Regions from separate parts of the Homo sapiens genome. Here all the other regions are linked to region 2. Evidence: fine-mapped expression QTL. A gene starts in region 2. Each other region holds a variant in brackets. All regions are shown on one strand. Distances are between the middles of the regions.

Region 1 (8,243 bases), 46 kb after region 2:
ATTTACTTCACATAGCATTCAGGGTGGTAATACCATACAGAGAGGCAAATTGGTTCTATTTGAAGATCATTCAACTTGGTGACTTATATATGGAGAATTTCAAATATGTTCTAAGTGTTCGCCTATATATTTTTGGTCTGACATGGGGAAAGAAGGTTTCTAGGGGAGACTAATCTCTGAGCACTTACCAGGAGAGGACACCTAAGGGTCACTGTTGGGAAGAAGTCCAATAGTTCTTTGTTGGACTGTTGGGCTGCTAGTCTCATACTCTCCAACCAAGGTTGGAGACCATCCTGGCTAACACGGTGAAATCCCATCTCTACTAAAAATGCAAAAAAATTAGCTGGGCGTGGTGGCACGCACCTGTAATCCCAGTTACTCGGGAGGCTGAGGCAGGAGAATGGCCTGAACCCAGGAGGCGGAGCTTGCAGTGAGCCAAGATTGCACCACTGCACTCCAGCCTGAGCGACAGAGCGAGACTGTGTCTCCAAAAAAAAAAAAAAAAAAGAAAATGGAGCTGCCTAAATTCTGTCCCTGGCTACTTGTTAATTGTTGATAGGATGGAATGCTTATGGATACAGTTCTGGGTATGTCCCTCAGATGTCTTTCCTGTTTTGAGGGAAACAAACTCCTTGAGAGAGAGTAAGAAAAAATTTGGTGAGGCCATCCTTTTGGGAGACCAAGATGAACAACAAAACTTGTATAAAGAGAGTGATTCCCTACCTCAGCAAAAGTAATATTAGCATATTTAGGAGTGGCAGGGTCAACATAAGTGGACAAAGAAAAAGCAAGAACAATATCAAGGCAGCCATGTCAATCATTCTACAGTGCTTTGCCAGCCTCCACAGAATTTTAAGCAAAATTTTATGCAAAAATAATGTGTACCTAGCAGAGCTTTCAGTGTATTTTCACCAACCTTACCTTTTTTTCTGTGGAGAAAGAAGATGATCTAGCTTGTTCAGTAAATATTATTTTCACAAAATAGAAAATAAATATTAAAACACTTAGAAGATTTATAAAAATTCTATCAGGCATGCAGGGCATGTGATTATCTTTTTATTCATGCGATTGCTTAGTGGATTAAGAAAAGAAAGTTGAAGCCAAATTCCTTTTACAGGGCCAGCGTAGGGGTGAGTGGTGAGTGGTGGGATGGGAACTGGTAGAAAGTGTTTTAAAATAGAAGGAATCTGACTATCTGTTTAGACAGCATAATGCTACTGATTCAGCTAAAATATAATGATTGTTTATAGAAATTATAAAAATCCTTGATAAGATCACATTGACAGATGAAGATAACTACTTTTGAAGATTAGTTTTGTACTCAGCTCCACTGTTTTTTCTCACTGTTAGGAGCCTAAGTACCCTATCAGTCTGTGATTAGATTTTGATGCCAGATTAGGAGAACGTGTATAATCTTGCATAAAACTCAATTATTGCTGTTAAATAACTACTGTCAAATCTTAATAAAGCTGTCTCACTACAGGGAGATAAGATATTTTATTCTTTCCCTTGTCCTACTGGGAGGTGTAAATATGTAATTAAATTTGATGTCATTAATCACTTTCAAGTTGTTTGCTTCAGACTTTCAAATATAAACCATTCTAAATCCCAATTTGATTAAAGATCATGGACAACTCAAGTTCACTAGGATTCTGGGGGTAGGTTAGGTTATGATTTGTATAATTGACAAAATATGTATTTTAAGGACATTTATTGTAGTTATTTAAAATCTTTGTCTGCTGGTTCTTAACATCTGGGTTGTCTATGGATGTGTTTCTGTTTCTATCAACTGCTCCTTCTTTGGACCATGGGTATGACTTCCCTTTACTTTACACATGTATGGTAGTTTTACATTACTTACTGGACATTGTGGGTGATAGATTTTAAAGTTTATCTCCCACTAAAGAATGTTGAATTTTGTCAAGATTGGCAGATCATCTTGATCCTATGGATGCTAGGTTTTAGGACACGTTAGGGTGGGCCTACTTCTGTTCTGCCCTTAGTCCGATGACACAAATCTTAGTCATGGGATAGGGTTCTTATTCCCAAGATGTGACCCTTCTAGGGGTTCAGTGGTAAGTGTGAGGGGCCTACCAAGCCCTGAGGTGTTCATTAAGCCCCTCTAAGGCAGAACTTGTCCTCCCAGCCCCAGGAGCCTTCTGCTCAGTCTTTTCAGCCGTCCAGCTCTTACTTTCTCTTGGGTTTCTGAATCTTATCTTGCTCATGCATAGTCAGGAATTATTTAAGGATTTGAGCAGAGTTGTATGCATACTTTGAAGCTACCCACTCTGTGGTTCTGTCTTTTCCAGGAATTTTTCTCCTCATATTCTAGCTGCTGTGACAGCTCCAGATACCTCTGACTCCTCAGTATCACAGGACTTCCATTTTCTGCTTGCACACTCTTCCTCTTCTGCTGCATGAACTGGGGTGTACCTTCACGATAAAAAAAAAAACAAAACTGTAAATGTGGGTTTCATATAGTTTGCTTTGCTTTTTCTGAGGCTTATATCCCTTCTAGTTTATGCCTGCTTTCAGTGATTCTCCAGTGCCTTTGATATTTTGTCCAGAGCAAGAGGGCTAGTCTGATATAAGTTACTCTGCAATTATTTTTAATGATGAAAATTGGAAATATAAAGGGGCCTTTCAGAATTTCATACATACCACTTGGTAAATATCTAACGTAGTGTTTGTAAAACAGCAGAAAGTCACTGTGAGTTGTATACATTCCTGTAGATGGGTGCTTGCATTTGAGAATGTCCACTTTTTGCTAAAGTGCTGATCTAAAAACTACACTTTAAGGTAAATTATTATAAATATAAAGTGTTATAAAATATAACTTTGTGTCACATTTTGTCTAAAACTTGTCTGCTAGCTGTAATAAACATTAAACATTAACAGCTAACAATTTTCCTTGCCAGGATTAGGCAGTCATGTTGGTGGTCCAGATTTCCTGAATCCATCCAAGAAAAACTAGAGCCATTGCCTTCTTTGTCTTCTTGGTAAATGTCTGTATAGTAAGTAGAGAGTAGAGACACTCATAATCCCTTAGAACTTAGCTTTTTATGGAGGATGCATTCGCAATGGTTCTGTTGTGGTGCTTCTCCCCCAAAAGGGCGTTTTCAGAAGTCATGGCTGACTCAGCATTTCCCCTTTTCCTTCACCTTCTTGTGAGTGCATTCAGGGAGGCACAGGGGCATTGTCAGATCAAAGAAATAGACAGGGAAAAATATCAACTGTTAAATTACTTTCTCTTTCTTCTCAGCTGAAACTGGTTCTGCCAGCCTAGTTCCTTCAAGTACGGTGCCTATTTAGCTGAACATTGTGTATATAGTTTTTCTGGAAAATGATAGCAGAAGCTTGGCCAGTTTTCCATAGTTCATTTATCTTTTTAACATAAAACAAAGAATGCTGTTTTCTTGGCTCATTAAATACCTCTCATAGAGTAATCTTTTCTTAAAATGTAATGTGTTCAGGTTTTATTAATTCAAGAGTTATTTATTGCATGCTATTTATGAGTACCACATATAACAGATAACTCAAGTCTGTGGTAGTAGTTGCAGTTAATCAATATTGTTATCATATTATTTCACACTTCTTTGGGAAGTCATAAAATAATTACCAGTTCATTAACTTGGGCTTCTTAGAGAGGTTCAGAGTAAAGCCAAGTATGAAAAAAACTGACTATAATGTGGCCTTCTGTACAGGGGCCGCCAGTGAATGGCAGGGCTGGGACCATGGTGAGGCAAGTAAGGCACAGGCCTCTCTTGTGAAATTTAAGAGAGTGCCAAAAAACTCACTAATCAAAATAATGTTTGTATGTAGTTGTTCAAAAAATCAAAATTAATGCAAAATAAGTTGAAAATTATCAAAATTTTAAATAAGGAGATAAGTACTACTGATTTTTTCTTTTGCCTTATGATCTAGTATGGTTCAGCCTGCACTGGTGAGTGGAGTAAGGGTCCTGGAAGATCCTTGACTGGTGACATGAAGAGGACATAGTTTTTTGTTGTTGTTTTTTTTTGAGACAGAGTCTCGCTCTGTGGCCCAGGCTGGAGTGCAGTGGCGCTTTCTTGGCTCACTGTAAGCTCCGCCTCCC[G/A]GGTTCTTGCCATTCTCCTGCCTCAGCCTCTCAAGTAGCCGGGACTACAAGCGCCCGCCACCACGCCCGGCTAATTTTTTGTATTTTTAGTAGAGACGGGGTTTCACTGTGTTAGCCAGGATGGTCTCTATCTCCTGACCTCATGATCTGCCCGCCTCGGCCTCCCAAAGTGCTGGGATTACAGGCGTGAGCCACCACACCCAGCTGAGGACATAGGTTTTTTTATGCCAGATAGACTTAAGTTTGAGTCCTGATTCCTATTAACAATTGGATCTTTGGCAAGTTAAAGTCTATAATGCTAGCTAACATTATTGCGTATTAGGGTCTGTTCTCAAGTAGTTTAACATGTATTTACTTTAGTCCCCATGTGAGAGAGAGACTATATGGAAGCTAAGAGAAGTTAAATAATTCACTCAAGATCCCATCACTCTGTAGCTAACCTGAGATATACTCGTGGAAAATGTACTGTCACCTTGAGTCTCAGTTTGCCTGTCAATAAAATGGGACAGAATTACCTGTTTTAAGTTTGTAGTTCAAATGGAACCTTCTGAAAAGGAAGTGTGGAACATTTGAAAGTATACAAAAAGGGGACTTTTCAGATCAGGAATATGATTAAAACACTGCTTTATGTAATTTCTAAATTTAAAGACAGTAGCATTAGGTAGGCCTGAGTACCTCATATCATTCTAGAACACTAAATCTGCATATAGTTACATGAGTGTACATGGGCCAGGTTTGGTGAATACTGCATTTCTGAGAAATGGCCTTTAACATGAAAGCTCAATGTAATAACTGTGGATGAAATAGAAGAAGAGGGCAGTGAAGGTGGGGATAGAGGATATTGTCTATTAAAGTGTGCTTCAGTAGAGAGAACTAATTTGAAACTTCTCCTTTCTTTTTACTAATGGAACAGGAGCAAGTCCAGACAGATTTATGCAGTTGTGAAATTGAGACAGGTTAAATTCAGTGATTTTTGATAAATGTTGTTGCCAGCACAAAAGTCACAAGTTGTTGAATATGGCACCTTACATTTGCATAGTGAGTTACAGATGCATATGAGTATGTCCTGTGAGGCTTTTCCTTGTATTAGGACTTGAGATCTGGACCCTTTAACAGTACCATTCCTAAGTGATTCTTATTAATACTTATGTCCTATTAAAATCCTTTATCAAATATGATGTTTCCCTAAGGGGTCTTTTGTAAAGGAAGTCTTGGTTACTAGCATCTCCATCTGTGGCCCAGGCTTGAGTGCAGTAGAGCAATCATGGATCACTGCAGCCTCCACCTCCTAGGCTCAAGCCATCCATCCTCCTGCCTCAGTCTCCCATTTTTAAAACTTTTTATAGAGACACGGTCTCACATGTTGCTCAGGCTGGTCTCGAATTCCTGGGCTCAAGTGATCCTCCCACTTCTGCCTCCCAAAGGGCTGGAATTACAGGCCTGAACCACTGTGCCTGGCCAGTTAGTAGCTTCTTAACACATAGCAACATAATTTCCATACTATTTTCAACTAATTTTTATTCTTTCAGTTGGGACCTTTATATATTTCAGTGTTCAGTGAAGAAGTAGGAGAATCTGGTTCTTAGGCTCTGCCTATATCCTTTTACCTGTCTTGGGTAACTGCCAAGAAATTAAATCAACAAATTTTGGCCTGCAGTCTGGCATTAATAGATGTGAATTTAGCTAGGTTTCTTTCAACACAGTCTCCAGGTCAATCGTAATCTTATGTGAAGTTTCTTATTCAGGCATGTCTCATTAGCACCATTAATTTCACACAGGAATTCTTTTTTTCTCCCTTTTTTTGTGACTAAGCAAAATGAGAAATATTTCTCTTTCAGGATATGGAGAGGCTTAATTAAATTCTTTAATTTTGTCTACATCTGCCCTTATGAATGATAGCAAAGGAATGGGGGATATCAGAATATGAGAAAAAGTAATCATCTAAAAATTTCCAAGCACTTTAAAATTTGTTAAGCTAGCATAAATATGTGGGTGTGATAGAGGTTTTCATTAGGCCTCCTCTCAACATACAGTAGTTAGGAATGAAGTTTAGTGTCTCTCCGTCCTCCTGTCATATGTGTGTATGCACACATGTGTGCACATGCGACTGTGTTATGCATTTTGTTTTCATATTTCTTTTAGTTGAGTTTTACCTTACAACCCAACGTAAGGTAAATTAAACTTTCTATTGGATTTCCGCACATTTTCTAGATCCTATTTATTCACTGTCAGTGACCTTCACTAGCACTTAGTCCTCTGTGTCCAAAAATGTATTGCCAATTCTTAGACTCCATCAGCCTTCTCCTATGAAAAAGTAATGCAGTTAATTTCTGCTCGAAATGCTCTTCTCCTAAACAGTCTTCTACTTGATCTTTATGAAAAGAGTTTTATGAAAGAAAAGTGAAAATAAAGACTAAGAAAGGCATTATTTAAGTGATGGGTGATATTATTCAGCGAACACATTCAACTAGAGCATTCTATCCAGTTTTTTGCCTTCACGTAAATATGAGGAGAAAGGTAGGTGTTAATAAGAAAATAATCTGATTAGGATTTATGTAGAATGGTAGCATTTAGACTATTAAATCTGTATAGATTCAGGTCATTTTCCTGCAGTCACTGTCTATAATCCTGTGTGCTGAACACTGAAAGTTAGATGGACTCTGAAGCACTATAGAATCCTCACTTTTCAAACAAAAGTTTAATTTTTATCACACTAGTATTTATTGAGCAGGCTACTATAACTGATCACTGTACTGGGTATTGTGAATACCCAGAAAAGCCCAAGAGGCCTGTGTTACCTGACTTCCTTATTCACAAGTATACGTACCCAGAGACTGTCTGACAGTGAATGCAGTTTCTCCTGCATAAGACATGGTGGCAGTCTTCTGAAGTCTTGCTGGGGAGATGAAGCATACAGAGATGTGTAAAATAAAACAGTTTGTAATATCCCAGTGTAGGGGCACAGATAATAACTATGGACACTCAGACAAAGGAACAAGTACTGTGGGACAAAAGAGTAAAATCAGAGGACTTTTGGTGCACTGCTTAGATCCTAAATCTTTGAATATTAGTGGTGCCTTAGAAGACGGATAGGTAGGAGAAGGGTGAGAGGAAGGGAGCTGAGGAGACTAGAAGGGACTGTTATTTCCTGGAATAATCATTACCAATTTCTTCATCACATTTTCTTAATGACACAGTTTCAAACGTTTTCTTCATCTTGATTGCTGTCTTCTGTGTATATGCTGGTTTGTGTGAGGTTTTACTAAACCAGTATGTGGATTAATCTAGTTTCACAGTGACAGGTAAGTGATTTAGAAAATCCTTCCTTTAGCACATGTTAACTTGAACGTTTGGAGGTAGAATGCCTAGAGTGAGGGTGAAGGAGAGGACCTGGGGACAGGAAGAGAGGGCAGCTGGGAGCAATTATGCTCCTTCCCTCAGACCTTTTTGGCCTTGACTCTTGATTCTTGTACTTCTACCAGACAGAGAGGCGGTAGGCTTGTGGCCATGTTTTGCGAGGAAAATCAGAATCTAAGAATCTCTAAGGCAAGAGCAAGAATGGATTGGGATAGGGAAAGTGATAGGAAAACAGAGGCACTAAGAAGAGGGTTGGTTTTCATGTACTGCATAGTTCATTCCCTTAGTTGAGAAATCAGGTATCTCAACCTCAGATATCTTCTGTCCAGCATATCGCTGGCCAGATCTGATTCATATGAGGGATCCAGAGTAAGGAAGCATCTGTTAGCCAAGTCTTTGGTTACCCCAAATTAGCTCAGGTCCTTTACTGCTTGTTTCCTCTGATTATATAGTACATATCCAAACCCTCAATTTTCCAGAATAAACTAGGTCTGCCTATTCTGTGTGGAAAACATTTGATGGTGGTTAAGATTCTCTTGCCTAGACGATGGTAGTGCCTTAGTCGTTTAACTGCCTGTCACTTTAAGATTTTGAAATACTGGTTCTCGTTGTGTAAGCCAGACACATCTTGAGAATATTTTACGGGGCAACTTGCCCTTTCTGAAACCTCAGTCATCCTGAAAAGTAACTCTGTACCTCCTTGACTTTAATTTTTCTGTCTTAATTCTATTTGTATACAATGTTTGTGGTGTCTGATTCTCTGTCTCGTATTGCTGAAACTCATGGCCTT
Region 2 (8,243 bases):
TAAAAGTGTTTTTGGAAGGTCTAAATCACTGCGCAACTGCAAGGCATTATTAAAAGAAATCTTCCTTTTAATTCCTGCTTCCACAAACATCTCATCACATATCCTTGGGTTCCTGGGTTACATGGAGAGATTCGTGGTGTAGCTCAATCTATGTGTCATAGCTATCCCACAATCTCTTCTTCAACTTCTCCAACACACCAAGACATTCTTCCAGTCTTGCATTGTTCCCCAGTTTATATAGATATATATGTTCCTCATTCAGCATTTATGTAAAACATATATTATTGAGCACTTATGTGATAGAAACCGAGGCAAAACAGAAAATAAAACAGAGTTTTATTTTGAGAGTTTTTTTTACAGCTTATCGGCTCTGAGAGGACAGACATGAGAACAAATAAGTGCCCAATTCTGCATTTATTTTGGAAGGCAGTTTTATGTGAGTTTAAATCAGTAAAGACATAGATGTATATTTTTAGTTTTGATTAAAACTAAAACAATTGGTAGCCCTTATTCATATTTTTCTATCATTAAAACTTATCTTTAAAAAATGTCTTCAGTCATATTTTTCCCTTACTTCCATTCATATTTACTCTTTACTTCTCTTGTCCTTACCAGAATGTATGCAGTAAGTTTTCATATTGTAACATATTCAACAAAAGTTATATGTGAACATAATAGCTGCTTTCTTTAAAACGGTTACTTTGAGAAACTGCATACCTATTTTTTTTTTTTTTTTTTTTTTGAGACGGAGTTTCACTCTTGTTGTCCAGGCTGGAGTACAGTGGCACGATCTTGGCTCACTGCAATCTCTGCCTCCTGGGTTCAAGTGATTCTACTGCCTCAGTCTCCTGAGTAGCTGGGATTACAGGTGCTCGCCACCATGCCCGGCTAATTTTTGGTATTTTTAGTAGAGACGGGTTTTCAACATGTTGGCCAGGCTGGTCTCAAACTCCTGACCTCAGGTGATCTGCCCACCTCAGCTTCCCAAAGTGCTGGGATTATGACATAAGCCGCCACGCCTGGCCTGCACATTTATTTTAATAATGTTGTCATAGCTACAGTCGCTTCTAGAGTTGCTCTTTGGGGATAACTATCTTATATTCTTCTGAATATATTTTAATAGTGACAAAACTTATCTTTGCAGGTGATTTTTAAAATTTGTATGCAGCCAAGTCACTATGAATTATCTTTAGTGAGTAAAGAGGAAGATCGAACTGGTAACACTGTGGGTAAACAACTGAAAAATAATGTTATCTTTCTCTGAACATACTTGCACAAGACAAATTCCAAAAATATTTTGACTACATTATTTTTGAAAAGGGTTTCCAGTATTTCAATGTGACTACTTTCACTAATGGTACTTGCTTACCTAAAGTGCTTGTTAACATGCAGTTTTGGAACTTCATAGGTCTATGCCCATACTGACTTGTACTTGCTTAGTGTTGTTTCACATTCTAGTTCAACATCTATTATGTGATAGACACTGGGGATTAATAGGCTGTGGTCTTTGCCCATGAGGACCTCAAAACTTAGTTGAGAACACAGAAATACAAAGAGTCCTGTGTGAAAAATAAGTATCGGTGTTAAGATAAAGAAGCGGCAGTGGAAGACAGTGGAGGGACTGTCTGTTAGGGGGAGGAATTTATTGCGGTGTCGGCAAAGCCTTCTTTGGACTGAAGGATGAATTATGATTAGAAGTTCATTAAGAGGAGGAGGGAAGGGGACTACAGGAGTCATTCCAAGCCAAAGGAACAAAAGATACAGGGACAGAAACAGCAAGATATGTTTGGGGGAATCTCAAGTTAGTCAATACTGTTATTGTGTGAAGTTCACAACAGGGGCAGGGAGGACAGGAGATGGGGCCCAATGACGAAAAGGCCTTGTATGTACCATGTTTAGAAGTTTGAATTTTATCCTATAGGAGTCAGGGAGAGGTTCTATGGGTAGGATTTCCCATCCCAACAGGATTGTAAACTCCCACATCCAATTAGTCACACCTCCATTTTTTTTTTCTGTTTCTTTAACATTGTCTCGGATTCATTCCTTCTGAAATCTACCTTATTAGTTCAGGTCTTCTTAAATTTGTGCCTGGACTGTTCACCAACTCTTGACTGGTCCTGGGGCTCCAGTTCACCTCTTGCTCCCCCAACAATCAATTTTCTACAGAATTATCAGAGCAATCTTCCTTTCCATCAATCTCAACTCTGTTCAAAAACTTTCAATAGTTTTATGTGACCTAAGAGGTAGCTGCCTCCCCACCCTTTCAGCTTGCCATTCAAGGCTGCATAATTTGGTCCCAACCCCCTTTCCGTCCTTGACTCCTCTCACTGCTAACAGAGACAGAACTCATTTACTTACTCTTTTGACTGTACCTTTGCTTTCACGAGGGCTCTTTCCTGGAATGATATGTCCATACAACTATTGTTGCTGTTCTTACTTTTAGCTCTTTTCTTAGAAGCCCACTTGTACCCAGGTTTGATCACACCCCCTACTCTCCTGCCCTGGAAGTAACTACTATTCTGGTTATAGTCTCTTAATATCTATATCTATATATATGCATCCACAGATAATGTGTAGTATTGTCTTGAAAAAAATATACATAAATGGTATACTTTGTCTCCCTCTGTGATTAGTTTTTTCACTATCATTTAGTTTTTAAGATTTATCCCTATTGACATAAATAGCTATAGTCTTTTCAATTACTGTGTTGCATTTCATTTTATAAATATACCATACATTATTCATCCATTCCTCTAAGGGTGGGCATTTATGTTGTTTTCAAGGTTTTGCTATTACAGTGTTACAACGAATATCCTTAGCTTAGCTGGTCTCCTTGTCTTATACAAATTTTACTGACCTTTCAAGATCCTGCTTTCATCCCAGCTCCTCTGGGAAAGCCTTCCCTGAATCCCCCAGCCCACAGCGGCAAAGTCTTGGTACTCAAAGTTGCTTGTGCATCTTTGGTATCATCCCACTGCCAAGCACACAGCTACGCAAAGTAAGGCACTTAAGAAATATTCGCTACACGGATGAACAAATGAATGAATGAATGGGGCAGCACCACTCCGTGATGGCTCTATTCCTTTTTAATGGACTTTGGCGCCTTGGCCCACTTTCCTTCTTTGACAGCACTGGTCCTACTCCAGAGCATTCCTCTAGCTAGCAAAGCAGTGTGTGGATGTGTGGGTGTAGGTGGCGATACAGACCTCACTGGATGAGGACCGCCTCTCCCTGCAAGTTCACGATCCCGGCAAACTCCAGTGCTTGAAGTTCAGAGTCCTACCCCACCCCCCTCACCCCCACGCCCCTTCTGCACTGGTCAAGCCAGCGAGCCGCTGCAGCCCTGATCGAGTTAAGGCGCGGCGGCCCCCGGGGCCGCTGGAGAAGGATGCGGACGGGGCCAGTGACTCGTAGTAGATCCCTCCGCGCGGAGCTCGGGCCGGCGCTTCTTCCTGCGGGAAACCCCTGGGTGCCCAAGGCGGCGGGGCCGAGGCCGCGGCGACAGTGGGGCGGGGCTTGCGGTGGGAGGAGGCGGCTGAGGCGGAAGGACACACGAGGCTGCTTCGTTGCACACCCGAGAAAGTTTCAGCCAAACTTCGGGCGGCGGCTGAGGCGGCGGCCGAGGAGCGGCGGACTCGGGGCGCGGGGAGTCGAGGCATTTGCGCCTGGGCTTCGGAGCGTAGCGCCAGGGCCTGAGCCTTTGAAGCAGGAGGAGGGGAGGAGAGAGTGGGGCTCCTCTATCGGGACCCCCTCCCCATGTGGATCTGCCCAGGCGGCGGCGGCGGCGGCGGAGGAGGAGGCGACCGAGAAGATGCCCGCCCTGCGCCCCGCTCTGCTGTGGGCGCTGCTGGCGCTCTGGCTGTGCTGCGCGGCCCCCGCGCATGGTGAGTATCGGGCTGAGGGGCGCTGTCCGCGGCGCCCGGGGCTGCCACCTGGGGCGACCCTTCTCCCCCTCGGTCCTTCTCTGTGTGGGAAGGCCAGGCTCGGCCGCCGGCGCGGAGCGAGGCCACTCGCTGGGTTCCCAAGAGTTTGGACATCGCCGGGGGCCCCTCCCGTGGTGCCCCGCCAACCGCCGGGGTTCCCCGCCGCCTCTGCTCCCCGCGGCCCGGGACCCCTTACACGCCTCCTCGGCAGGAGGGAGGCCGGCAGCAAGTCTCAGAAACTCCTTTTTCGTAGTGCCAGGGTGCAGGGAGGTGGGCAGTTTTGCCCTTCAGGTTCCGCGTTTCTTGGGGTCGAGCGAGAGCCGACGGCGGGCCTCGGAGGGGCTGAGCGAAGGAATGCCAGATTCTGGCGTGGAGAGCGGGGGCAGGGCCGCCAAGCCAAACGGCCTGCACCGTCGCAGCCAGCCTCGCCTTTGCCAGGGGGCGGCACATGGGCCGGGTGTGTGGGCTTGGTTTGGATGGGGACGGGGTTTTGCGGCGCGCCTGAGTTTTGACACTCCAACCCCACCGAAAGTCCGGGGGAGCCGTGTGTGCTGCTCGCGTCTTTGAAAGGTGGAGGCAGGAGAAGTAGGGCAACTGGTGTGGCTGCATGCTGAGGCACATGATTTAAAAATCTCAACTGCTGTTATTCTTTCCGAGGCGCGGAGCTCTGCTGCTGTTTCAGGCTGTGTCCAGACCCAGGAATGTGGTGTGACGATCACCAATTCCTCCAACCTGGCAGCAGCATTTGCTGCTCCTTTGGCATGGCTGGGGGTGGGGCACGGGCGGGTGAGAAAAAGTGGATACGTTAATTCAAAGGGCTTCCTTAGAAAGCTTCTTTATGGTTGGATGTTTCTAACACGGTTGGACCAAGGAAAGGGAATCAAATCATATCTTCCCCATCCCACCCACACTTTTAGATTCTACATTTCTTCAGACCCTTTAGTGGAAATAACTTGGGCTTTGGAGCCCTGCTCTGTAATCCTGGATTCAAATCCAGCTCTGCTATATGAACTCACCAATAAAATGGGAAAGAAATTATCCAGCTAATAGGATTAATTAAAATAATGTATATTAAACGGATGACACTCCAAAGGTGTTCAGAAAGTCCTTTCAGGGCCGAGGCTGTGTTTTACTGCTTCTGAGATTGATGCTCCCAGTGGGATGCTGTCTTGTGCATATTTGTTGAACGGAAAGCAGCCCCTTCTTTTTCTGAGCCTAATCTGAATAAAGATTTTTACCTTCACCAAAAAACTAGTACATGAACTACATCTGTTTTCAAAGAAAAGGTTAGGAAGATGATGAGCTTCAGAAAAATATGGTCTTTGTTCATTGTTAACAGTCAGTCGACATGTCAATCGCAGATGTTTAAAAAGAGAACAAGGTTATTTATCACCCGAAAATAGTACTGGGTTGTTCAGCACCAACTAGATACTTCTTGGAAAGTTCAAATTTCGTACACGTCTAGGTCACTAAGAATTTCAGAAGTGGACCAGGAGGCTTTGTAGTGATGAAGCAGAGCCGTTGTTTCTGAAGCATTTAATAAAGAGCATATATGATGGTGTTTTTGCTTTTCCTTTTTCTTTGAGTGAAAGCTTTAAGTGTAGCTTTAGGATAGAGAGGAGTATGATCAATGAGACAGTCTGAGGGTAATAATCCTTGGTCTATCATTAACTTGTTTTGGTAAATAACTTAATCTTCATGATATGTAGTCTCCTCACCTATGAAGCAGGACTAAAGGAATAACCTGCTTTAGAGAATTGTAGGGAATAATAAATATAATTGTAAAGTGATTTGAAAAATTAAGTATTAAATAATATGATATCAGAAATGGGATTACTCTGACACATAGGGCTTCTTTTATTATAGGATCTCAGTGCATAAAACTATGCCCTCCACCTCTGCTCTGCTGAGGTGCTGCGATTATTAGCTAGCTTTTAGGTAGTCAAGTTGAGTGTTAGTCAAGTTGACTCAAAGGATAGGATTTAGATATTTTGATTTTTAGACAGGTGTTCTTTAGATGCTAAACTAATGCAGTAGAAGAGATTTAGAAGCCGTTTCTCGGTACAAATCTTAAATCTTCTTAGAGTCTACAGTGAAGGCTTCTTGAATCCTCTTAATTTATTATTGTGTTTTGCTAAGGTACCAGTTGCAGCACACCCTTCTAAACTTTTGAGTGTTCCTGTGTTTGGCTTGTGGCCAATTGTTAATTTAAACATCACGGAGTTTCTAAGGCAAGGAGATGTTAGCAGTATGTCTGATTGTCTAAACAGCTATCCAGGACCATCCTCTTGCTCCTTGTTTTCTTTTGCTTTGCAATGGGAAGTGACTCCCTGATTTTGCTGCCTGCTAGATAATTTCTCAGCTGAATTCTTCTCTTGCTTAAACAAAATCGGAGTAATTTTCTTTCAGATGGTGATGAAATTTAACCTAAAACTATTTTTCCTTTCACTTTCTTATTATTCCTTTTTTTTTGGTGTGGTGGAGAGGAGGAGGAGAGTGATTCCTAGTCTCTCTTATTTTTCTGAATGTTTAGATTTAAAAAATATTTACCCATAACTTCTTGGGATCTCTCTGCTCCATTCCCACCCTACTGCCTCTCCTGTAGGCTTCTATGACATAGAGGAGCAACTTTTGGTTCACCTGGATTGTAGTTGCTGACTTCAGGACCTTTAGAGAATGTTTAAATTCAGTGGGATATGCTTGGATGGTTCAGAGCAGCCTTACAATACATCTTAAAAATATCACACCCACAGAAATTCTATTTTGCCCACAAAATTTGCATTGATCTAGTTCCCACTCTGTGTTGCCATTCCTAGTGATCCTCCTCCCTACCTCTCCCATTATGGTAGAAAAAACTCTGTGTCCTGGCTACATCAAAATCTGTTGGGGTGGATCTTGGACTCAGCACCCAGGGATTCTGATAAGGTAAGTTTGAGAATCCATATTTTTTCAAGGTTTACAGGTGATTCTGACAAGTAACTTGGTTGCAACCCACTGATTAAGTACATTTTTTTTTACCTTCAGGTGTGTGTATGAGGTCTTTCTAAATTTAAGAAATTTCCATAACAAATGTAACCTTAGTCATTCCAGTGTTTAACGCTTCTGACTCAAGGAATTTAAAAATTGCTAACGTAAGAGATATAGAATATAATGTCATTTCTTCTATTTATCTGGGTGCAATATGTCTGCATTGACCCTTTAGAAGGGCTTCATATATTTAGATGATATAATAAATTCTCCACCTCTCCTTTTCCCTTTTCTTCTGTTATCTCTTTTTCCTTAAATGTCATTCATACATGTTGTTTTTTGACCCTTTATCTATATACGTCTGCAATGATTTTAGAGTAAAAAACTGCAAGGCGTGATTTGAATAAGGATATAAGAAATTTTACATCATTTTCTTTATATTGTGTTCACAGTCCATAGTTACATGCTTCCTTTCTTGATGTCTCAGTTCGAATGCCTAAATTTGAACTATTGATTTTCCTTCCACCCTTTCCTGATTTTCCTGTTTTTGTTTCTCCCCCTTTCTCTGCAAATGACTTGAAACCAAAAGGTCTTCTTTTCTTTCTTTGTCAGCCTACCGTATGTGTAGTATTTTGGACAGATCACTGAACTAGGAGCCAGAAGACCAGAATTCTTCTCCAGGTCTGTTATTAATTGGTTTGGTGACCTTGTAGGAGAGCCACTGTTTCCGTCCTCCATTTTCTGATGTTCATTGTTCATGGTCACAGAGCCAATTAGAGTTGAGACTAGAATTCCTTTCTTCTGGTGTCCAGTGCCTCATTCACTGTCCTCATTGCTTCCATCTCGTGTACAAATGCGCTTATGTGCACAAAAACTCTTATAACATCCTCAAGTGCTTATTGTTAATGCGTACATGAGGAAGGAATCGTGTATTTTCATTTATGTGTTTATTCTAATGCCCATACCCTACCCCTGTACCTGGCATGATGCCTTGGTATCTAATAGGCACACAATAAATACTTGTTCAGTCGAACAATTATTTTTAGCCATTTTCTTATTTTGGACAACTGTGGTACTCCTAGACATTTTAAAAACAGTATTTGCAGGAGTCATGCTTACCTTACATTTGGGGAAAAACCAAATTTTTCCCTTCCCCAGATGTTTCATTTTAACTTGTAATTTTGAATTTCTTTGTGTGTGGGGTTTCTTTCTTTCTTTTTCTGATCACTTCTGCAATTTATAAAGGTCACTTTGACTTTGGAATCTCACTTCAAAGGCACTGCCATCCACCCCCTGCCTCTCACTCAAGTTTGCTTCCACTGCTTCCTGTATTACTGTATTACTAGGCCAGCA
Region 3 (8,243 bases), 21 kb after region 2:
GTACAACATAGGCTGCTTCTAAGTGTATTTTTATTTCCTAGCTCTTAGCATTTCTCACCTTATCATTATAACTTTAAATTTAAACAGAATACAAATTGTGTACACAGATGGGTGTGTCACTATTGCACTGTCACTTATGTAAGTGCAGTTTAGCATTTCTTCTTTCCTTTTAATCAAAATGAGGAAATAGAAAATGTTTTGTTATGGTAGTTTTACACATACACCCACAAGGAAATGTGTATCTAGAGTCTGTGGGAACTGTGACTTGATACATTTCAGGGAATAAAATGTATGATGGCTAAAATTTTAACTCTGCCAAATGTTCACGGGGAAAGAAAAATTAACAAACTCACATTTTACACTTTATTTTAGCCTAGTCTCTGCCTTGTTTACATCTATATGATAATGAAGCTATACTTGTCTTTCCACAACAGTGTATTTTATAAGTTGTACCTTTTGTTTAAGGGAGCCTTCTTAACAAACTTTCTTTCAGTTGTCCAGTGTACAGAAGCTTACTGGAAGGAGTGGCCAACTAGTTAAAGGTTTGACACCTCAATATCAACAAAATGCCAAGTGGATCATTTTGACTCTCACAGCAATCCAACTGGACATTTGACCATGCCCCGTGGTCAGTGGAGAGCTTCTTCTCTGAAGGCCACTTTTATCTAGCACATCAAGGCTATACACCTCTTTCACTAAGAAGAATTTGGCACTTTTATGTTGTGAGAGCTGAGATTCACCATTCTCCACCATCCTGAGAAGAGCTTTGATAGAAGGGCTACTCCTGAGGTACATAGATTATCCAAAATACATACAATTTTTTCATAGAAAATTATATATGTATTATAATTTTTATTCAAGACAGGTTGAAATTAATAGATTTCTTACATTCACTGCATTAAAGGAATATTTATGGCTTTGGTAATATTTTAAATTTCAAATTAAAAAATTTGAATATCTGAATTAAGTATCTCTGATTTAACTCTGTGTGTGTGTGCGTGTGTGTGTGTGTGTGTGTGTGTGTGTGTGTGTGTGTGTGTGTGTTGGGAGGAGGAATAGACCTTGGAATTGTTTTTTCAAAACTTTTTTTATAATAGTGCCTAATCTCAGTTGGCAAGGAATAGCTGTCCAGAATGCTGCATAGATCTAGTGAAAAGATTTAGGGAAGTTGTAACTAGTTTAATAACCATCTGTGGAGTGACATAGATTGACACACCCAATTACACAAGACCTGAGTCTGAGAACTGTTGATGTGCAATCATCCCATCAGCATCTGCTCGTCATTATCAACAACAATAATGGCTCAACTATTTCTTTGAGGCCACATGAAAAGACAGTGTACCCATAGCAAAGGATAAGTCAGACCTGAAAAAAACATAGCCCTCTGCATCCCCTTGTTCCCAAACTTCTTTTTAAACATAACCTTTTGTGAAGTTCTGAAAGAATTCATTTTATGTTTTCTTTTTATTAATTTTTCTTCTTAAATACCATGTCTTTCTGGCTGAAATCCTTGCCAAAACCAGGAAGGGCCAGTGTACTGTGGGTGATTTTTCTAATTCATTTCTTTGTCATTTGAAGCCTTCTGTGGCTTCATGCTGCTTTATGTGTGTGTAAATATTCAGTATCTTTTCTAGTTTACACTTTTGTCACAACTGCTATTAAGCCACCTATGGACACATTCTAATATAAATTATTTTGGCCACTGTGAGTGGGAGGGAAAGAATCAGTTCACAGGGATAAATTTGCATGTTGAGAAGATAATATATAATAGTTTGCAAAACACTTCTATGTACATTGTATCTTTTATAGAGACAAGGCCATGTTTTTATTTGTAGAGACTGAGACAGAGACCCCATGAGATCTAATGCAGAGTCACATGACTCCAAAGCCAGGTCTTCTATCTGCTCTTTGGTATATAACTGGATCATTATTCTATTGACAGAAATAAGGAATCTTCTTATTTTTCAAAGGCACCCTTTTGCCCTTGGAAGGTATATTTAGAAATCCTTTACCAGAGTAGAAAGAAGACAGTTATATTTTCCTGCCTTTTGATAAAAAACAGTGTGTTTTTTCTAAATCTTGTTGTGTTTGACTAGAGTCTGATTAAGGTACCTTTTGGGAAATTAAGGTTCTATAGAAATTACTGGGCTCAATCTAGTGATACAAATATGTGTTGTTTGATTTATCAACACATTACAAACCTTAACTTTGGAGTTTTAATATCTGGTTATCTTTAATATCTGGTTATCTTCTTTCTGAAGTGTATGTACACAAAATTGATGCTAAATAAGGTCTTGTTGTTTTGGCAAATAGTGAAATGCAAGGTATTGGTAGATCAGTACTGTTATAACTTTGGTGCAAAGTTGCTGCATGCAGATTGGCTGTGGGACCTTGTTCATTTTTTGAGAACTAATGTAGAGTTTGAAAAAACACCGTAAGCCTGCATTCCAGAAGTTCTGGTATGGATAGTGTGAGCCCAGGGAATGTGCTTAGATAAAAGATCATTTAACAAATAGGTTTTGCATTTTTTTAGCAATCAGGCTTTGTGCTGAATATTAGAGTGGTTGTTTCAGAGAGTTTGCAGCAATTAGGCTTTATTGGTGCACTAAGGAGAAGCAGAGAGGAGAAGCAATTCTTGGTAACTTCCTTGGAAGTTGCAGCTAACTCTGAAAAGTCTGGGTTGAACTAGGTAAGTAACTAATTCCTAGAATCAATAAACTTTGCAGGAGTCCGTTTGATTGTACATGTAGCTCCCTGGAATTGCTATTGGTCCCTAAATCATCAGTTTGTAATGCTGGTTTTCAAACTTGAGTGCACATCAAGTTTTGGAGGACTTGTTAGAATACAGATTGCTGGGCTCACCCCCAGAGTTTCTGATCTGGTAGGTCTGGAGCGGGACCTGGTAGATTGCATTTCTAAAAAGCGTCCAGGTAATACTGCTGCTGTTTGGGAAAGTACACTTTGAGAGTCACTGGCTTACAACAATCTCAAGGTGTTTGGATTTTTGGGCAGGGGTGCTGTGCAGGCGTTGCTGGGATCTCTTCACAGCACCTCCACTGCATAGAGGTGAGCCTCCAGATGTTTTCATTCATTCAACAAATATATGTACCTATTGTGTGCTGGGCACTGCTTAAGTTGCGAGGGGATATTGTGAAGAAAGTAAGCAAAACCCCTTTGTTTGTAGAATTTCAGTGAGCATAGTCCTGGGTTAACCTGACAACAGTCCTACTGTTTATTGATGCTTATAGGTGAGCCTATTTCTCTTTCTAGCTTTCTTCCACTTAATTTACTTTCTTTTGGAATTCTTGAATTTAATAATAATAATATTGATGTTATTAGTCATCACTATAACTTTTTATTGAGTGTGTATTTTATGTCAGACACAGTGTGGCTAAGTGCTTTACATACATTATCTCATCTAATCCTTAGAAAAAACCCTGGTGTATTAGTCTTAATTTAAAAGATGTACTTTGGAAAGGTTAGTAGTTTACCCAAGATTATGCAGCTAGTTAAAAGTGGTGCTGGGGCTGGGCTTGGTGGCTCACACCTGTAATCGCAGTGCTTTGGGAGTCTGAGGCAGGAGGATCGCTTGACACCAGGAGTTTGAGACTAACCTGGGAAACATAGCAAGACCCCATCTTTACGAAAATAAAAAAATTAGCCAGGAGTGGGGGTGCACACCTGTGGTCCCAGCTACTTGGGAGGCTGAGGCAGGAGGATTGCTTGAGCCCCAGAGGTTGAGGCTGCAGTGAGCCATGATTATGCCACTGCACATCTGTCTGGGTGACAGAGCAAGATCCTGTCTCCAAAAAAAAAAAAAAAAAAAAGTGGTATTGGGCCTGTCTAATTGCCAAGCCACATTCTTTACTGCATGCTTTAGTCCATTGTTTTTTACACTGCAGATCATGACCACGAATGGGTCATGAAACCAATTTGGTAGGTCTCCAACAGCACTTTGGGGGAAAAAAGGGTAGAATAGAGAGTATCACATAGTATGGACAAGCATTGTTTCTTGAAATTTTTGTTTTTGCTATGCACGTATATATGTGAATATTGAGGTCTGGT[A/C]CAAGATATATTTCTCACTGTAGGTCACAGTAAAACATGTTGGTAAGCTACTATTTTCTTGGCTATGGGACTATATGTCATCTAATCACTTTTTAAAAACAGATTACAAACTGTAGGCCTTAGAAAGGTAAGTAATTTTTCAGCTGGGCATGGTGGCTCATGCCTGTTAATCCCAGAACTTTGGGAGGCCAAGGCAGGCGGATCACGAGATCAGGAGTTCAAGACCAGCCTGGCCAATGTGGCAAAACCCCGTCTCTACGGAAAAAAATGCAAAAATTAGCTGGACATGGTGGCGTGCACCTGTAATCCCAGCTACTCAGGAGGCTGAGGCAGGAGAATCGCTTGAACCTGGGAGGCGGAGGCTGCCATGAGCTGAGATCACGCCATTGCACTCCAACCTGGGCAATAGAGAGAGACTGCATCTCAAAAAAAAAAAAAAAAACCAAGGTAAAGTAATTTTTCAAGAGCACAAAAATAGTCAGTGGCAGTACAAAGACAAGATGACTGACTTTTTTTTTTTTTTTGAGACAGGGCCTCACTCTGTCACCCAGACTGGAGGGCAGTGGTGCGATGTTGGCTTACCACAACCTCCACCTCCCAGGCTCAAGCGATTCTCCTGCCTTAGCCTCCCGAGTAGCCGGGATTACTGGGGTGTGCCACTACCACCCGGCTAATTTTTTTGTATTTTTAGTAGAGACGTGGTTTCACCATGTTGGCCAGGCTGGTTTTGAACTGCTGACCTCAAATGATCCACCTGCCTCAGCCTCCCAGAGTGCTGGGATTACAGGTGTTAGCCACTGTGCCAGGCCAGATGTCTGACTTTTTAGCCCTTGGTCCATTGCTTTATTCTTCACACCATACCACTTCCTTAGAAGTGCACCTGGGAATGCCTGGGAATTGAATTTTATCTTTCCACATGATGGCAGATATGCTATGGAACCTTCAGGGATGTCGATGAAACCTGAAAAGGGAAGTTGAATCTCAGCCTGCTCTGAGTAGGTGAAAATTCTGCCTTGGATCCCCCAAAGTCTGCAGATAAAGATGTGACATTTCTCGTGTTCTGCTGTGCTTGAAGGAAAGAGGGTAATAATCTTAACAGTGCCAAGCTGTAAGCATGTTGCATATATTAACTTGTTTAATTACTAATTATTTTGATACAGCGGCCATGCCTGGGATATGAACTCAGCTGTTTTGAGTGAGAAGGGGCATCCTACCAGTGTGAGTTAACACTTCTCTGTACTCTCCCCGGTTCCTCATTTTGTTCCTGCTGAGTTCAGAGCGATGTTCCTCATAGCCTGGCTTACCTGTGGATGTTCTCAGCCTCATTTTCTTTTGCTAGATCATATATCTTCATTAGGTGGGTGATTTTGGTTTCTGTTACTTTTTCCTTAATATTAGTATATTGCTGATTTGGATCAGGGGCCAGGCTGTAGATTTTCAGCATGGTGAGGTGATAATACATGTTGGTCCCCCATGCAGAATGCTGCCTCTAGCACTTTAGCCAAAGGAGCTCTACAGTCTGTCCAGAAGTACTGGGGGACACTGGTAATAACCTGAGAACACTTACAGAGCCTTCCAGAAAGTGCCCTTTCACATCATATAAACAGATCATGGGAAGCTGAGGGAATGCAAAGTCAAGGCCTCATTGGAGAGCGGAAAGGAGGCTGAGATTGGTGGAGAGGAGTGGCTGTTACATTCTAATTAGAAGAATGACATGTGCAGGGCCATGAAGCAACTAAAGATGGGATGAAAAACTTAACTTGTGAATCGCAAAATTTGAGTAGGAAGGAGCTGGAAAGGCCTGGAAGTGCGAAGTGATTGGCCCTTGGTCAGATGGCTAGAAGATAGAGAGCCAGGCATAGAACCCAGAATCCAGGCCATCATTTTGTGGCCTCTTTTATCCTAATGACATGTTAGCCAGAGGTGTCTTCCAAAGCACCTGATTATAGGGAAGAATGAATGTCACTTACCCTAGAGTGAGTGAAATAGAGATGCCAGGAAGATATACCAGGTTTATCCAGTTTCTTTGCATTTTTCTGGCATACTGTATACTCTTGAGCGCATATGTATCCTACTTTGTGAAATCTGGGGGTAAAGCAGGACCCTTCAAACCCTTAAAAAATGTATACCCCAAGAAAAACATTTTTAAAGCATGAACGCTTCCTCAAGTAAATACATATTTATACATTATATAAATGTCTGGCTATTAAACCATGTATGCATATGTTAACTCTAAGTAAAGCTTATATGTTTTTTAGCCCATAAATATGGAGATGTTTTAAAATTTCTTCCAGTGCCCCAGTGGATGGTCTTACACCTCCCCTGCTTCTGGGGTACACACACCTAATTTTGCAGACCACTGGTCCAGAATGTAAATTGAAGAGTTTAATGTCTAAGATATTTGTTCTTTTGTTTGTAGCTTATCTTTTACTCCCCACGTTTCAAATATCCCTTTGCAAAATAATTTTTGAGTTAAAATTTTCAATTAAAAAACTGTATACTTGAGGTAGAAAAGATAAAGATAGAAGATATATGTGAATTAGGTTGTATCTCTCCTTAAGAGGGAATACTGTTTTTTATCTAAGGAGAACTAACAACCCTCCCTTTCATTGTCTGGGTTGGTATAAGTAAAAATCCTTGTTTGAAGTTATTAAGCCTTCCCACCCATATGATGATTAGTTTGGTTCATAAGCTAGAGTTAGGGCTTGGTAAAGGCTCCTTTTTTTTTTTTTTTTTTAAAGTCTTTCCACCTTAACTAGCAAGTAAGCTAGAAATGACAGAGCAGTAGAAGGGGGAATCTACCAGAGTGTCCTACAGGACCTTGTTGAATGCTACTGCTGCATGCAAGGGTTGTGGATTTGGTGTGGGCCTTCTGCAGTATCACCCAAATTTGAGCAGTACATGTAACTAAAAGTAAGAAAAATAAATTAGACAGTTTATTTCATTTCAGACTTTGGAAGCCCAGGACTGTGGGGATTAGCTATTAGCTAAGACAATGATTCACTGAGCAAATGCAGTGAAAGATTCTTTTGTTACACTGATCATCATTTGTGGAGAGACTCTGAAGAAGGATAAAGCTCTGGCTGCATAGTCAAACCAGACCTACTACTCAAGGACATGCATACTAGATATGTAGGTGTTTCCAAATATTTTTTTCAGTTGTGGCGGTGCAAATCATTTCAATAGTAGAGTAACTCAGTTCATTACTGTTACTGGAAAAACAAGTTTAACCAAGCACATATCCTACTGAGGGTGAGTCAACAGTGTCATTTTAACATAAGAAGGACAGTACATGAAGTGAGTTATTCCAAGTCCTGTGGTTTTCCTACAGCTGAGCAAAGACAGCTGTTCTTTCGGAAGTGGGGCTCTAAAAAGAAGTTGCCCATCTCCTTTCTTTCTTGATTATAGCCTTTTAGTTTTCTTTTGGCCTGAGACATTTCAAAAATTCATTTCCTCCTTAGATTTCTATCACCAAATACCCTGAATTTTGATAATTTATTTATAGAGTATATTATTTATTATAGACTTATTATAGTTTAAAACTTTATTTTAATTTATCTCCCATTTCAAGATCCACATTTGCTATATGTGTCAGATAATAAAAATGCCATAAGGAAAACAGAGGAGTGATCTTTTTTAATATGTCATTATTTTCTATAGTTCTTTAGTGGTATGGACATGGAATAAGGTGGCATTTTGTGGGACAGTATACCAAACTTAGTGATAAAATTTATACTTTTAATTTTGGAGGACAAAAGTCTTGTATTCTCAGCCTTGTGGATAAGACAGTGCTCTGAGCTGTCTGAGGTTTCCTAAATTGGGATTCAACATCATGAAGGGTATGTGTCTGGATAGTTTATTTGTTGGTTTGGGAAGGTGAGTTTTTGTCTTTTTTCCCCCTCTGAGTTGATTTCTTTAGTTGGAGAGAAGCAGACCAGATGAAGAAAATACTTTATCTCTTATGGCATTTTTGGTTTACCACATTAGTTATGACCCGTCTTCTCTGAGCAGCAGGCCATGCTTCTCTGTTCAGTAGTTCAGTTTTCACTAACTTAACTGCAGATGTGTTCTTGGAGGGATTTATTTCTAATCAATTGAATTATGGGTACTTGGATAAAATGATGATGGGTTACCTACTTTTAATAGGGCCTTCATTTTTAAGAGTAAAATCTTGTCAA
Region 4 (8,243 bases), 61 kb before region 2:
AAAAAAGAATGAAATAATGTCTTGCACAACTTGGATGGAGCTGGAGGCCATTATTTTAAGTGAAATAACTCAGGAATGGAAAACCAAATGCCATATGTTCTCACTTATAAGTGGGAGTTAAGTTATGGGTACACAAAGGCTTACAAAGTGGTATAATGGACATTTGAGATTCAGACAGGGGAAGGTTGGGAGGAAGGTGAGGGATAAAAAACTGCATATTGGGTACAATGTATACTACTAGGGTGACAGGGGTACTAAAATATCAGACTTCACCACTATACAGTTCATCCATGTAACCAAACACCACTTATACCCTTAAAGTTATTGAAATAAAAATGTATTTAAAATTTAAAAAAGAAAACCTAAATGTGTCATCCACTACTCAAAAGTTTCCATGGCTCCTTCTCATTTAGTATAAAAGCCAATGTCTTTGATTAGTCCTGGGCCCTACCTCATCTGGCCTCCATCTGTGACTTCATCTGATATTTTTCTTCCTGTAACTCCATTCTGAACATATAGGCCTCCTAACTGTTTCTTGAATATAACAGGCCTCCTCCTGCCCCAGTGACTTTTGACTCTTCCCTCTGCCTCAGAGTCTCTTCTCCCAGATATGCATTAGTTTGTTCCTTCACTGCCTTCAGATCTTTGTTCAAATGTAACCAATGATACTTTCTTTTCCTGACAATCGTATTTAAACTTGCTATCTTCCTCCCATCCCTCAGCCTCTAGCATATCCTGTTCTTCCTTGCTTTATTCTTCCAACGCTTATCATTTTACCTGACTTATTTTTCTGGGCTGTTGTCTATTCCTCCCCCTGTAACCCATGCTCTATGAGAGCAAGGATTTATGTATTTTGCTCACTACTATATCCTCAGTGTCTTGACTATTCCTGGCACAGAGTAGCTGCTTAATAAATAATTTACTGAATGAGTGAATACATCCACAAAAGTAGTGATTATGAAAATTGGGTCATAATTTGAAAAGTGGAAAGTATGTTACTGTAAGCTGTGATGTGCACAGTGGCTGTGGCAATGTGGTGTAGCACAGTCTGGGAGCTGCAGATGAGAGAGATCTGGATTTGAATCCTGAGTCCACTACTTCCTAGTTATGTGAACTTCGGCAAGTGTACCTAACCTCTCAGTTTTATCATCTGTGGAACAGGTAGAATAATACCTCCTTCATAGCATGGTGAAAATTAAATGAGAAGATGTAGGAAAAACCTGGCACATAATAGGTGTTCTATGAACATTAACTCTCTCTCTTCTCCTAAAGAATATATACACAGTGGGTAAGAATTGCAAAATAATTGGGTAAGAATTGCAAAATAATTTCAAAGACAGGGATGATGCACTTTTATAAAAAAATTTTAATACACAAGTCCTCTCTAAGCATGGATATATATATAAAAACAGTGCCAGACTAGGAGTATGGAGACCTGGGTTCTGGGTTCACCTCTGATGCAGGCTGTGTGACATTAAGCAAATCCTAACCTCTTGGGACTGTCTTTTCATCTGCAAAATGAAGAGGTAGAATTTAGTAAGTTTGAGTCCCATCAATGCTTAAAATTCTATAATTCAGAAAGGCAGGCCATTCTACCTAGTTTCATCCCGCTTTAGCTCAGCCTTACTCAGATATGCTGGCCAGATGTTTCTAATCTTACACATAAAAGACTCTGGTATTCAGAGGCCAAAAGAAACTGGACAATTTAAGAAAAGTACTAAGCGGATGAGTTTTCCTTCTGTCTGATTCTTAAACAGCTACATGACTATTATTCAAACTTAAGAAAACAGGAAAAGAAAAGCAAGTATGCATATTTAGGTTTGAATCAACTATGTGAATATTTAGCCATGAAGAAAAGTGTGTTTTTTTGTGTGTGTTTTATTAATTATTATTTGTACAACAACCAAAAAGTAGACGTCAGCAGTTTTCAACTGTAACTATAACCTTGTACCATGTGGCTGTGGGCCGAAGTGCAGGAGGGAGTAGCTGGAAGGGAATCTGGCTAGAGCCTTCCCCTGCTCTGGAAAGCTCGTGGCTTTGTTTTTTTCACATTGCTACACCGAGACGGAGGAGAGGAGGATGTTTGGGTTTACAGGCCACCAGCCACTGTCAGCAAGTTTGTAGCCCCAGCTTCACTTCCCTGAAAGGGCGGGGGAGTTTCAGCTGCCCTGGCCTCCCTCCAGCAACTGAGCCACAGAGGATTCAAATACCCCATCAGTTGCAAGGCCCTGACTTTACCCAGCTGAAAACTGACTATCTCATCTGGGAAGGGTCAGTTAAAAAATGACAGAACTGCCTAAAGTAAACAAAGGGAACAACCACAACAGAAACTTTCTCTGCAGTGTTTCCTTATAATTACCGGCCCATCCCACCAGGGCTCTGGCTTGAGTCCCCATCCACTCTCCCTGTTGCCCCCACAGGACCTTGTTTGAGTAAGCCCTAGCTGACCTGAGGATCGCCTCCCTGTCTACATGCCTCTGTCCCGCCCTCTCCATGGAGGGGAGGGAGACTCCCGATTGCAGGAAGTTTTGAGAATGGAGTTTGAGGATTGTCAGGCAAAAAGACCCTCTAGAGCTCATTCATTAGGACCCCTAATAGATGAGTAAACAGCTTAAATGAAGTGCCTAAAGTTGAGAGCAAGTATGGGACAGAACTGGTTTTCTTCTTGCTAACCAAGTGCTCTTTCCAGTAATCATATACCGTTGTAAGGGACTAAAGATAAGGAAACTAACATTGAAGTTCTTTCTCCACCTTTTCATTCTAACCAAATCCTACTTTGTCGGACTTTTACACTTTATAGATAGGCTGGGCATGGTGGCTCACACCTGTAATCCCAGCACTTTGGGAGGTTGAGGTAAGTGGATGATGATGTCAGGAGTTCAAGACCAGCCTTGCCAATATGGTGAAACCCCATCTCTACTAAAAATAAAAACAAAAAAAAAATTAGCTGGGTGTGGTGGCGGGCGCCTGTAATCCCAGCTACTCAGGAGGCTGAGGCAGAGAATTGCTTGAACCCGGCAGGCGGATGTTGCAGTGAGCTGAGATCATGCCACTGCACTCCAGCCTGGCTGACAGAGCGAGACTCAATCTCAAAAAAACAAAAACAGAAAAACACGCTTTATAGATAAACATATTTTGAATTTAGACTTAAGGACAAGGACTAAATCTTACACTCTGTGTACCTTGTTCGTACTTCAGAGTTCATGAAGTGTGTTCATGGTCAGCAGCCAAGTAGAGTGGGTAGGACATTTGCTTCAGAGTTGAGCAAGCCTCAGAATCCCATCTCTGCACATTCTAGCTGTGTAAACTTGTAGGCAGATTACCTACTCTAAAACTTAGTTTCCACATTTGCAAAAGGGGAACAATAATAGCTCCACCTCATTATTTTGTCATGAGGATTTCATGAGATGATACATGTAATGCACATTGAAAAACTCAACAAATGTTAGAAATTGTAAATAGGTCTGGAAGGCATTTATCATTCCCATTTTACAGATGAGAAAATTAAAGCTCAGAGAGTTTAAGGGCTAGAGTCATACAATTGGTTAGTAAGATAGCTAGGATTTAGCTCAGCCTCCCAGCTCCATATCCACAGTACTTGCTGCCCCACCATTGAGTGTAGACAATTGGGGATGGCTCTAAGCTATGGGCCAAATATGTCTGTCCCTATCATCATGGAATGACATGTTATTTATTAAGCCCATATATGCTTGAGGTGCCAGGAAATGGATGCTTCTGGGGTGAGGTAGGCTCTTCATGTGCAGCCTTCATGTACAGATTCCAGCCAAGGAAATCAAGCCTGGCACTAATCCCTTGTCCAAGCCCAGAGACGCTGTGCCCACGGAGTAGGTCAGAAGTCCTTGAATATCCTCAGCTTTCCTTTCCTCTGGCAATGCTTCCTTGATGCCCTAAGAATATTTTGCTTACCCTGACATTAGAGCCCTCTTCACACTCCCAAGCTTTCTAGTATTTTGGGTGTGCATCTGATTCTCCTGTTGAAACTGGACTCCAAAGTGAAGTGCTCAAAATGGTACATAGAGGTATGAGAAAAACATATGTGAATACTTGCTTCTATTTATTTTTTAATCTAAAATATTAAGAAAATTAGGCTTTACTAATATTAAAATGTCACAGTAGAGTGTATGGAATTTATAGCAAACATGCAATTATTAGGCATGTATGCTGGTTTTCTTTTCTTTCTTTCTTTTTTTTTTGATGGAGTGGTATGAAGAAAAGAGACTAGAGGTAACTGTTCTAGAAAGTAAGCTCCTACAGGCAGAAGATGTGTCTTTTTCTAATGTGTATTCTACCCCTCCCTCATTGGCACTAAATGACTCCTCCCTGATTAAATAAATTTGGTATCTATGTAAACTTGGTGGTCTTTCTTGCTTTTCCCCTCCTTTTGTCATCCATCTGATATAATGTCTTA[C/T]TCAATATTCTCCCAAGACCTGAACAAATAATAAAGCTGTGTTAGTAAAGAGTGCAAATTGCCATAAAAAGACTGAAAAGTAAGATTCATAGTCCCCAAGGAGATGGTTAATGGTAGTCAATAAGGCATATAGTGGGCAAAAGAAAAGCTAAATGTAAAACTTCATGGAAGAACTCATGGACACAGTCAGGCAGGGAGCCCCAGCACTACAGTCTGAGAAATCAAATGTAATCTGAGCATATGTGTGTTTTCAAACTAACCACTGCCCTCTCTCTCCTCTGAAACTTGCAGAAAGCAATGCAACACAATGCAATGAGCCAGGGTCTTGGAGAAAGAAAGAAATCCCAACTCTGTCACTGTCCTGGTTGGGTGATCTTGGGCAAGGTCCATAATCACCCCCACTCCCAGGAAAAATAGTTCTTCACCTACAAATGAGGTTGAGCTAGATGATTTTGGAGGTTACTTTCATGTTTTGAAGCAGCCCATGTTTTCTTCCTGAGGCAATTTATACTTCAAGTGACACCATGAAGCTCACTGGACCAAAAATATCACCTTACCACCAAGCCTTTCATGGTTTGTGACATCCTCTCCTCAGGCACCATGTCTCCATGCGGTGCTTCCCAACCTAGCAATAACTTACTGGCATGAATCCACTTCAAGTATCAGTTATGTCCATGATGCATGTAGAGTGGGAAAGCAAGATATGAAAGGTTATATATGTGGTATGCGTATGTCTATAAATACCTACAAATATATGTGCATACACATAGAAAAAGAACTGAAAGATACTCAGCATACTTTCAACACTGATTATTCCTAGGGAGTAGGAAAGCAAGATGAAGGTATGAATTTTACCATTTACTTTAAATCCTCCTATATTTTTGTTGTTTTTTAAAAATAAATGATTTTACTATTTACAAATAAAAATTTTAAAAAATAAACATTAAAGTCCTATACAAATGTTTAATAATATTTATAATAAGTAGCACCAGTTTCTTCAAGAAGCCCTACCAGAAGCAAATCTGCATCTTGATACTGCATTAGAGCCTTGGCTGAAGTACTAATAATACCCGAACATTCTATGGAGGATTGGGCCCTGGACTGGGAGAACCTAATCACATAATCAGAAACTCTTATGAGTAATTTTGGGCAACTTGAGTTTTCCCAAACTTTACTTGAGTTTGTTTTTCTCAACTAGAAAACAATGCTTTTGAACTAAATCCTCTATCGGGAACTTTCTACTCTGAAGTCCTGTGATTCTTAACAACAGTACATGCAAAAGACACAGGAAAGTGAGTATGTCATATGGCATCCAGGATACTTTCCCCCAAAGCAAAGTGAAAACTGATGTGAAACTCCTTCTTCCTTCCTTATTTTCCTCTCTCTCTCTCTCTCCACCTCTGTTATCTAAATGCTCTATATTTGAAGCATTCATCACTTTATAGGCCTTGATGGGATACAGAGGACAACCTTTTACTTTAGAAGCTGAAAATGTCAGATACTTCTTTTCCAGCTTCCCTTACAGGTATGCATAGGCATAAGGATCTGCATTGCTTTTTGACTCAGGAGCTAGTGACCTCAAATAGCAAAGACTGCTGAATCTGTTCTGCAGCAGGGAGTGGCATTAGTTGTAATAACAACACTCATTTTTTAGATGCTACAGTGGTGGTGGTTCTGGTGGTTCTAGCAGCAGGGACCAGCATCCAGGCTTGGGGCATTCACCGAGCAGTGGTTTCCATGCAGTGGGGGCATTGATGACTTCATGATATTGTTCTGCAGTACAATTTTAGGTGTTGCTTCTGGCTATGTAGCCTCTAAACCTGGGTTTCTAGTCCTCCTGGAGAGCTTGTGAACTACCTAATATTTTTTAATAAATTCATTTACTGCTTAGATTAACTATAAATTGTTTCTGTTGCTTGCGACCGAAAACATTTACTAATGTACCTATTATTTTTTTAAAAATCATGCACTTGGAGATTATATATATATACACACACATATGTTTTTAAGGGAAAAAAACTCCCCTTCCCTTTGTTGATCCCTTATTTTCCCAGTTTCTTCTCTGGAGGTAGTAATAATGATTTGTTTCTTATGTATTCCTCCAGAGATATCTTGTGTGTACACAAGCACATCTATGTATTTAAGAAAAGTTACTTAAAAAATCACTCAAATAGGATCACTCCATATACACTGTTCCATAATTTGCTTGTAACCTTAAGACTCCATGTTAGAGATAATTCCATAAATATAAAGCTGCCTCATTCTTTTTCTTATTTTTATTTTTAGAGACAGGTCTTGCTCTGTCTCCCACGCTAGAGTGCTGTGGTGTGATTATAGCTCACTGCAACCTCTAACTCCTGAGCTCAGGGGATCCTCCTGCTTCAGCCTCCCAAGTAGTTGGGACAACAGGTACGTGCCACCACTCCTCGCTAATTTTTTATTTTTTGTAGAGTCAGGCCTTGCCATGTTGCCCGGGCTGGTCTCGAACTCCTGGCCTCAACTGATCTTCCCATCTTGGTCTCTCAAAGTGCTGGGATTACAAGTGTGAGTGACTGTGCCTGGCCTGCCTCATTCTTTTTATTGGCTGCTTAATATCCCTCTGAATGAATATACTGTAATTTATGTAGCCAATTTCCTCCTGTAAGCAGTTGGGTTGCTTACAGTTTTTGTGACTACAAATAATGCTGCAGTGAATATCGTTGTAAATATGTATTTTTAAAAAAATATGGAATGCTTCATGCATGTCATCCTTGTGCAGGGGCCATGACAATCTTCTCTGTATCCTTCCAATTTTAGCATATGTGCAGCTGAAGTGAGCAAGTAAATATGTCTTAATGCCCAGTGCAAGCAGATACATGTCTGATAGGGAAGTTGCAGCGTCAAAAGGTAAATGTAACTTTAACATTTTGATAGATAGCACCAAAATGCACTGCAAATTTAGTAACAATTTTTAATCCTACTAAAAATATTTTAGACTCCCCCCCACCAAATCTTTACGTCACCAGTGTATATTATCAGATTTTATAATTTTGCTGTTCTAATAGGTGAAAACTGATTTTCTCATTGTTCTGATTTTCATTCTTTAATTTATGAGTGAGGTTGAACATTTTTCATGTATTTAAAAGCCATTTGTAAGTATTCACCTGTGTAGTATATTCATGTCCTTTGCCTGTTGTTTTCTATTGGATTTTTATCTGTGTTTAATTGCTTTGTAAAAACTTCATCTTTTTTTTTTTTTTTTTTTTGAAATAGGTTCTTGCTTTGTCACCCAGACTGGAGTTGCAGTCTGGCACCCTCCTGACTTGGCCTTTTTTTTTTTTTTTTGAGACAAAGCCTCACTCTGTTGCCTGGGCTGGAGTGCAGTGGCGCAATCTCAGCTCACTTCAACCTTCACCTCCCAGGTTCGAGTGATTCTCCTGCCTCGGTCTCCCAAGTAGCTGGGATTACAGGCATGTGCTACCACTCCCGGCTAATTGTTTTGTATTTTTCGTAGAGATGGGGTTTCACCATGTTGGCCAGACTGGTCTTGAACTCCTGACCTCAAGTGATCTGCCTGCCTCGGCCCCCCACAGCACCCAGCCCTGCCTCAGCCTTTTAAAGTGCTAGGATGACAAGTGTGAGCCACTACACCTGGTCAAAATTCCATATTTTAAAGTAAATTTGCCTTTTGTCATACTTGTTGCAAAATTTTTTCCCAATTTGTTTTTGGTTTTCTGATCTTTTTAAATTTGATTTGATTTTTGGTTTTTGCTTTGCATAAATCTTTAATTTTCACAAAGCCAAATTTGTCTATATTTTTGCTTATGGCTCTGGA

Which allele goes with the higher level. Alleles are on the strand shown, and positions count from the first base shown. SD is a standard deviation of normalised expression in the study named. Not every link is listed here.
For the expression in activated naive CD4 T cells of the gene that starts at base 3,556 in region 2, allele A in region 1 goes with a lower level than allele G (large effect, 1.7 SD a copy in Schmiedel 2018).
As copies of C replace A in region 3, the expression in monocytes after LPS of the gene that starts at base 3,556 in region 2 goes down (large effect, 1.3 SD a copy in Quach 2016).

Evidence for each region. PIP is the estimated chance that this variant, and not a neighbour inherited with it, causes the effect. A credible set is the group of variants that fine-mapping cannot tell apart.
Region 1: its variant is the best candidate, but not a certain one, in a credible set for the expression of NOTCH2 in activated naive CD4 T cells (Schmiedel 2018, PIP 0.85).
Region 3: its variant is the best candidate, but not a certain one, in a credible set for the expression of NOTCH2 in monocytes after LPS (Quach 2016, PIP 0.75).
Region 4: its variant is the best candidate, but not a certain one, in a credible set for the expression of NOTCH2 in T cells (TOPMed, PIP 0.75).

The regions. Positions count from the first base shown.
Region 1 is chr1:120,019,215-120,027,457 of GRCh38, reverse strand. The region is part of intron 2 of NOTCH2 (notch receptor 2); the gene reads left to right. Among named protein-coding and RNA genes, the nearest start is that of NOTCH2, 46 kb to the left of the region's middle. The variant G/A (reference allele first, on the strand shown) is at 4,097.
Region 2 is chr1:120,064,975-120,073,217 of GRCh38, reverse strand. NOTCH2 (notch receptor 2) reads left to right here and starts at 3,556. Exons shown (of 34, transcript NM_024408.4): 1 at 3,556-3,884. The coding sequence starts at 3,812. It overlaps LOC101929178 (a long non-coding RNA gene), which reads right to left and starts at 3,390. Exons shown (of 2, transcript XR_254374.4): 1 at 3,207-3,390.
Region 3 is chr1:120,044,030-120,052,272 of GRCh38, reverse strand. The region is part of intron 1 of NOTCH2 (notch receptor 2); the gene reads left to right. Among named protein-coding and RNA genes, the nearest start is that of NOTCH2, 22 kb to the left of the region's middle. The variant A/C (reference allele first, on the strand shown) is at 4,066.
Region 4 is chr1:120,125,980-120,134,222 of GRCh38, reverse strand. It overlaps the pseudogene RNU6-465P. Among named protein-coding and RNA genes, the nearest start is that of SEC22B, 46 kb to the left of the region's middle. The variant C/T (reference allele first, on the strand shown) is at 4,430.